2 linked regions of the Homo sapiens genome follow. The protein of the gene in region 1 purifies or fractionates together with the protein of each later gene. This does not show direct contact. Each region holds a gene or a part of one and is shown in the gene's direction. Other genes may lie near its edges.

Region 1 (3,824 bases):
TGTGTGAAAATAATGTGAAATCCAAATTTCAGGGCCCATCAATGGTCACACGATTATGTGAATTTACTAAAAACCATTGCATCATATATTTTAAAGGGTGGACTGTATGGTTTGTGAATTATATCTCAATAAAGTAGTTCTTAAAAAAAAACAAAACAAAATTTCAGGGCCCATCAAGTTATATATATATGAAATATATATTTTGGTAGATATGGGGTCTTGCTATGTTGCCCAGGCTGATCTTGAGCTCCAGGGCTCAAGTAAGTGATCCTCCCACCTCAGCCTCCCAAAATGCTGGGATTTCAGGTTTGAACCACCACTGTCATCCCCATAAATAAAGTTATTGGAATACAGCCATACTCATTCATTCATGTATTGTCTATGGCTGCTTTTGCTCTACAATAGCTGGGTTGAGTACTTGGAACAGAGACCAAATGTCTGGCAAAAGTCTAACATATTTACTATCTTGTACAGAAAAAAAATGTCAACCTACATCTATACTTATTACAATTTCAGTAAAAATACAGAGTTTAAGTAATTTGGGAAAATGGCTTTAAGAATGAAAAGGTGCAAGGTTATACCTGCTGAACAAATGAACTGTGGGCGTGAGGTGCCATTAGTCTAGGCCTGCATGTTCAGGGAAGGCCCAGGGGAGAGCCTGATGTGGCCTGGCTATTTGTCATATTTGCAAAGGGGAAGTGATGTAATTGGTCTGCAATGAACTTGATTTTCAATTGACTCAAAGATCTAAGGAGGAATAAAAATTATTTAAAAAGGAAATTAGGGAAGAATGGGGAGAATATTGGAATCATTTAATAGAAGTACAAACACATAGACTTTTAACTTTTGCCCATTAAATTTTTTTTAACATTTTATTTTCTTAAATTTTTTTTAAAAAAATAGTGATGGGGTTTCACTGTGTTGCCCAGGCTGGTCTCGAACTCCTGGGCTCAAGTGATCCTCCCACCTTGGCCTCCCAAAGTGTTGGGGTTACAGGCATGAGCCAGCCTCACCCAACCCATTAAATGTCTTTAATGTAACTTCGGGTGTATGAGAATTTGTAAGTTGACTGTGCAGATCTCTTAAAAGGTTGATATGGTGTATTTTTAGAATGTTTTAGACTGCACGTGTGTGTGTGTTTGTTTGTGTGTGTGTGTGTGTGCGTGCTATAGAAAACACAGCATGGAAACCTTGTTAAAATCAGAGGCTTTGATTTTTTATTCTAAAGCTTTGAGTTATATGTTTAATCAGATACTATGTGAAAAATTTTCATTAGGTACATATTGAAGTGTTCCATTCAAGTCTACAAGTATATCCTCCTAAGGATTTAGTTTAACATCCTTTCCCTGCTCCAACAAGGGAATGCTTTATTAGAGTTTCCTAGAAATAATGGGACTAATTAGGACCTTTCATATTACCTAGTCCAGCAGTCCAACCCATGTGGCTCCTTCAACAGCATCGCAGCCTAATGCTTTTAATTTAATTTTAAATTTTTAATGTTTTGCTGTGATTGCCTCTTCCACAGTTTGATTTTTTTGTACTGTATAATTCCATGTTAAGGTATTTAAAGCTTGAAAATCTTAGCATGATATAGCTACTTTGTTTTTTCATGTATTTTTAGCTCTGAAGTTGGAGATTCCAACCAGCTAATAAATGAGATCAGAGTCATGTGTTTTTTTGTTGTTGTTGCTCTATCACAATGTAAATGTGCCCCTAGGAAGCACCTGCTTCTATATGGTGCCTTACCCAAGGGAGTGTCTTCCTGGGGAAAAAAGTGTAGTTTTTCCAGCAGAAACTTGTGAGAGTGCAGAACCACAGAGGAGCAACAGTGTCTGAATAAAAAATTCCAGGGCAGGGAAGCAAAGTCTACCTGCAGAAAGGAAAGATTTTAGTAACTATCAAATCACAATTTTTCTTTTAAGATGAGTGACAAAATCAAGACCTTGCACTCCCCCATTTTGGGCTTACCCAAGCATCGAATAAAGCAGTAGAACTTACTTTGGTACTTGCGGGTGGCAGAGACACTTTCTACCTGTGTATGTGTTTTGGGAGCCGGCAGTCCTTCTAAAATTATATTGCTGCCATGTAATGTCCCACCTACAAAATGGATGTGGCCTAAAGCCATTTAAACATTTAAATGAAAGAGCAGTTGCAGTGTCTTTTTCAGGTTACCAGTTATACTGCCCAGAGGAAATCTTGGAGGGTATAAACCATTTTGTCACACTCTCCTAAATCCAGAGTAGCGATGGGAGATAATGGTTTATCCACCCAAAACAACCCTCTCAGTGGAGATTTCATAACCAAGGTTGCTAAATTGCCTGGTGACTATTAAATCTGGGCTTAGAAAGGCTTTGCTACTTGTGAGTTCAAGATCTCACCCTCACCTTTGCATGTACATGACCTAATTTTATGAGTTCAAACAAACATGATTAGATCCCCAGGGTTTAGATTGATGATGGCCAGACTCACAAGGGAATAATAATAATGGCATGGAGTATTTTATTAATTCACAAATGAAAAATGTATCTTGACAGTTTGGCAGATGCAGATACTCTCCTAGCCAGTCGAGGACCCTCTTTCTTATATCATAGCTGGAAATATGACAATAAATGATTGATCTCCAGCTTTCCCATTACAATATTCCCACCTAGCAGATCACCAGCTATCTGTTTCAGCCGTATTTATTTATTAGATGTGTTGGGAACAAGTAATCTTTGTTTGCAGCATCTTGTTTGATTTTTATGACCATGATTCTGCGAGATAGGACACAAGTGATTTCCATTTCACAGATTGGGAAATTGAGGCCAGAGCCTTTACTGCTAGTAGTGGACCTGGGTTTTGAATTCAGCTTTTAAGATTGCAGATCCAGAGCTCTTTGGAACATATTATACAGCTTTTCTCTCCAGGAAATTTGTGAATCCCTCTCTGTTGTTCACTATCTGAAGAGAAGACATATCAGAGGAAATAAAGGGTCTTAAAATGTTGCCAGAGCAGGGTGTGTGATGGGGGAAAGCATCGTCTTAAGTATCCTGTCATGTGATAGTAGTTTAAAAAATCAAAAAATACATCTTCCACATGTGTGAACTTGGCACATATTATTCTGAAGTATGAAATGTATTTTAGGAAGTTGAAACATCAGAAGTTTGGAAGCTTGCAGCATGATTTAGATATAAATTAATAGTCAAGCAAAAATCATCACTGGATAAGTGCAGTGGGATTGAAAACATTTTGCTTCCTCAATGCCTAGCTTCAGCTCATCAGTGAAAAATAAAGAAGGAGTAGACAAATTCAGTACTAGCCTTTGCATTCTGTCTCCACCTGAGTCATGCATGGTTGAGAAGAGGCAGGTGTGTGGAGGTGTGTGCGGCTGCCAGGGGCTCTGCGCCTGTTTTATGGTAGATAGAGGAGTTTTTAAGAGGCCTTTGTTGGTGATCTCTGGCTGCATAACAAATTACTCCAAAACTGAAAACAACGAACATCTCACATAGTCTTTGTAGTTGGGAAATTTGGGAGCTGGGTGGTGTGGCTCAGGTCACTTTTGAGAATGCTGTCAAGATGTCGGCTGGGACTGCAGTTGTTTAAAGACTTGACTGAGGCTCAAGAATCCTCTCCTAAGGCGGCTTACTCATTTGCCTGGGCTGTGAGTGCTGGCTGTTGGTGGGAGGCTGCAGTCCTCACCATGTGGACCACTGCTGGGTTGCTTGAGTATCCTCACAGCATGGCAGCTGGCTGCCCCAGAGTGAGTGATCCAAGAGCAAGCAAGATAGAAACTGCAGAGTCTTCTGTGACTTAGCCTCAAAAGTCACACTTATTTCCACAGTATC
Region 2 (3,824 bases), on another chromosome or scaffold:
TTAGAGAAGTCTCCCCACAGAGGAACTAAAAACCTAGAGAATGAGTTGCAGTTTGGCAGATGGGAGGATGGGGATGGAGAATTGCAGAAACAGTGTATGTGAGGAAGACCTATTGGGAGCACAGAGACCAGTAGTTTTCAGGGGAAACCTTTACCAGCTAGATGTATGCGGAGGGCTCATGTGTGGCAGAGGGAGCTGACACTGGACAGCTCAACAGGAATCATTGCCGTGAAGGGTTTTCTATACCTAAAAAGGGGTTTAGATTTTACTAAACCCCTTTTTTGAAGAATTCTGAGCCTTTTCACAACCAGGACACCAGAAGGAGTAGTCTGAATGTCCTGTCTTTACTTTCTCACTTCCTTTGACTCCTCAGCCTATTGTAATTGGAGTTGCAGTCAAATCACTCCATTAAAGCCGTTAGTTAAGGGGCATTCCAGTTACTAAATGCTTTTCGGCCATCATGTCACACAGTGAAAGGGCAACAGCTTTGGCCCTGCTGACTCCTTTCTTTCCTGAACTGGTCTCTTCCTTGGTTTCTCTGGTTGTACTTCTCTTTCTTGGGGCTATTTTTCAATAGAAGCCTTTTCAGCCTTTTCTTTAGCATTGCCCATCTTTAAGTCTTTAAAGTCCGGAGTTTCATTCTTGATGGTCTTCTATTGTCATTCTATATTCTCACCCTGGGAAAATTCACATATCTTCTTGCCTTCCACCCCAATTACTCCTAAATCTTGTTATTTACTTCATATTTTTTTAAGTTCCAGATCTATATATTTACTGTCTACTAAAAAGCTGTCTTCATTAGGATAGTGCATAGACGTCTCAGACTCCATATGTCTGAAAAGTGAATCCATCATCTTTATCCCAACCTAATACCACTTGTAAATTTCCTGTCTTGGTGAATACATTATCAGCTACCTAGATGCTGAAACCAGTAACCTGTGGGTCCTTTTAGATCTTTTCTTTTCTCCCTTATGTGCCATAGATAATCAACTGCAAGTTATTTTAGTTCTACCTTACAGTTTCTCAAATATGTCTCCTTTTCCCTTCTGTTGTTGGAGTACTTCAGAAAGTCATCATCTCTCTCATCTGGATTATTGTTACCCTGCCTCTAACACTGCTTCCCCTTCCAACTAATTCTGTTCAGCAAATCTGATTGTGTCATCATGCGACCCCCTCTCCCACTGATTGGTGTAAGGCGAGAACTCAAACTTGATTTGTCGTTAAATCCTTTACTACCCATGTCCCAGGTGTCCCAGGTCTAGCTCTCTAGCTCCCATTCTCCTTCCATACTTCTGATAATGACTGCTCCTTTTTCTGAACTCCTAAACTGAATGCTTCTACCACCCCTGGATACTTACTCATACTACATGCCTTCTGCTGTTCTTTAACTGTTTATGTGTATGTATTTTATGGACCAAATGAGGGGACCTTCTCCAGGGCTTGGACCATATCCTCCAGAAAGGGTAAGACAGTATTTTTGTGGACATAGTATGCAGTCAATAAATATTTATTGGATTACATTCACTAATAAGTCTTTCTCTCCTTATATATTATTTATTAATAATGTCAATTTCTCTTTTAAAATCGTCTCTGAGTTTTTCATTTAACTGCATGAAGGCTTCACATTTTTCTAGTAACTTTGTAGCATTGCTTTGCTAATTAATAGGGCTTAACTTTTCATTTTCACCTAGCAAATCTGTTTCTTCATAGGTAAGGAATTCTTGCAATGTGCATGGTGGTAATAACAGCTATTTTTGGAAATATCAGCAGGAGTGTGCTAAATACTGTCAAATACTCTTAGATTCTTCTATCATTAGAAAGGCTTATAAACTTAAAAGTATCACAGCTTTAACTGGATTGAAGATAGGTTAATTTGATTCTTAGCTTTTCAAATGCAGACTTTCAAGAAAAAGGATTTTTTGGTTCAGTTTAAGACAAGACATTAGGAACTGATGTGTCTTATCGCCTTAGAACATGAAGGATTCTTTTGTTACTGACATAGGCATTGACATGTAGAGAAGAACTCCTGACTCTTCTTCTGTCTCTCCTTCCACTGGTATGGAAGATACCTGTCCAAGAAGAAAAGGCAACAGGTATGCTTTTTCCCTTTATCATATCACTTGTGTTATCAAAATTTCATAGAAAAGTTACTTCTGCCTGAATGTTTGATTCTGATTCAGATTCAGAACACTATATGTTATTGTGATTTATTCATACTAAATATGAAAAATTATTTAGGCAAACACATTTTTCCTTCAATAATACAAAAACCATGGTGCTTCTTGGGGGAAGTACTTGAATGTACTGATGATTAGAAAATGTATAAAGAAGCAGAAACACTTATCAGAAGGAGTGAGTCTAGGTGTGCAGCATAACATCAGAAAAATGGATAGTGAAAAGTTGGAAGTGAAAAGTCTGAATAAAGAAATTAAAGTTTCTTTGCTTATTTTAAAGACTGCTTTCTATTACCAGTATTCTATAAGTGACTTTTGCAGTATTTGTTTTAGCTTAGTTTTTCTAGTGTTGCCTTTAAAGTATAATTTTTTTTTTTTTTTTTTAGGCAGAGTCTCACTCTGTCACCCAGGTTGGAGGGCAGTGGAGTGATCTCGGCTCACTGCAACCTCAGCCTCCCGAGTTCAAGCAATTCTTGTGCCTCAGCCTCCTGAGTAGATGGGATTACAGTCGTGCACCACCATGCCAGACTAATTTTTGCATTTTAGTACATACAGATGGGATTTCACCATGTTGGCCAGGCTGGTCTCAAACTCCTGACCTCAAGTAATCTGCCCACCACAGCCTCCCAAAGTGCTGGGATTACAGGCATGAGCCACCGTGCCCAGCCTAAAGGATATATTTAATATTTTGTTTCAAGCTTGGGTAGAATTATTCTATGTAAGGTCGATAGATATTTTTAATTTATGATTTTGAAGAAATCATATGTCTATAAAGTACATGAAACTTTAAATGTTTCATTGGAGAGATTAATAGTTTTCCTCTTGACCCTTTCTTGTGACATGTTTGTGAGATGTTTGAAGATCTCTCAGGTTAAAAAAAAAATTATTGTATTTTAATTCCTGTATTTTTAGTGAATTTCATGGAGCTTTTTTTAAGGAGGTATCTAAGGTTTTGTAATACTGTTTTTCTGCTTATTTATTGATTCACTAACTCTCTGCTTTTATTTTTTTCTGAGTTTGCAGAATTCACAAATTGTTAATCACTTAAGAAATCTGATTAATGCTCTTTGGGGGAAGTTGTCTTCATTGTCTGCATCTTTTGCTTGGGTGGAATTTGTCAGACTCCTTTTAATTTCTCCTCTTCCCATCTGGTTTGCTTTCCCTGTCTTAGTAAAGCACAGATTTTTTTATTTACAGATTTTAATTTATTCACTCTAAATTACAGCTACTTTTTTATATAGCTCTTACTACATACTGCAAAGAGAAAGACTGATCTAATTATCTTTTTAGTTAAAGGGAGAATTCATTCATTTCCCCTGTGAAGTATTTACTGAGTGTTGACCATACGCCAGGCCCTATCTAGGCACCGGGGATGAAATAATAGTGTCTATACCTGGTGCCTAGTTCAGTGCTGAAACATTTGAGAAATAATTTGAATAAAGAATTATTTAAACCTCAGTTTTAGAGAACATTTGGCATATAGTGTATGATTTTGAAATAATTTTAGAAAAATCTTAAAGTAGTTAAATTATATCAGGTCTATGAATACTATTTTTGAGAATATAATACATCCTTACATTTTAATTAGTGGTACTATGGGAAGAGATTTGTAAATGGTGTGAACAACAGCACTAAATACCAGATAATCTA

The links.
Region 2: the proteins of TACC1 (region 1) and LYST purify together in Homo sapiens (affinity purification with mass spectrometry; one large-scale study listed by BioGRID and IntAct). This does not show direct contact.

The regions. Positions count from the first base shown.
Region 1 is NC_000008.11:38,793,419-38,797,242, forward strand, and holds part of TACC1 (transforming acidic coiled-coil-containing protein 1), read left to right. Parts: intron 1-3,824. UniProt on the Homo sapiens protein: Involved in transcription regulation induced by nuclear receptors, including in T3 thyroid hormone and all-trans retinoic acid pathways. Might promote the nuclear localization of the receptors.
Region 2 is NC_000001.11:235,811,240-235,815,063, reverse strand, and holds part of LYST (lysosomal-trafficking regulator), read left to right. Parts: intron 1-2,002; coding exon 2,003-2,093; intron 2,094-3,824. UniProt on the Homo sapiens protein: Adapter protein that regulates and/or fission of intracellular vesicles such as lysosomes. Might regulate trafficking of effectors involved in exocytosis.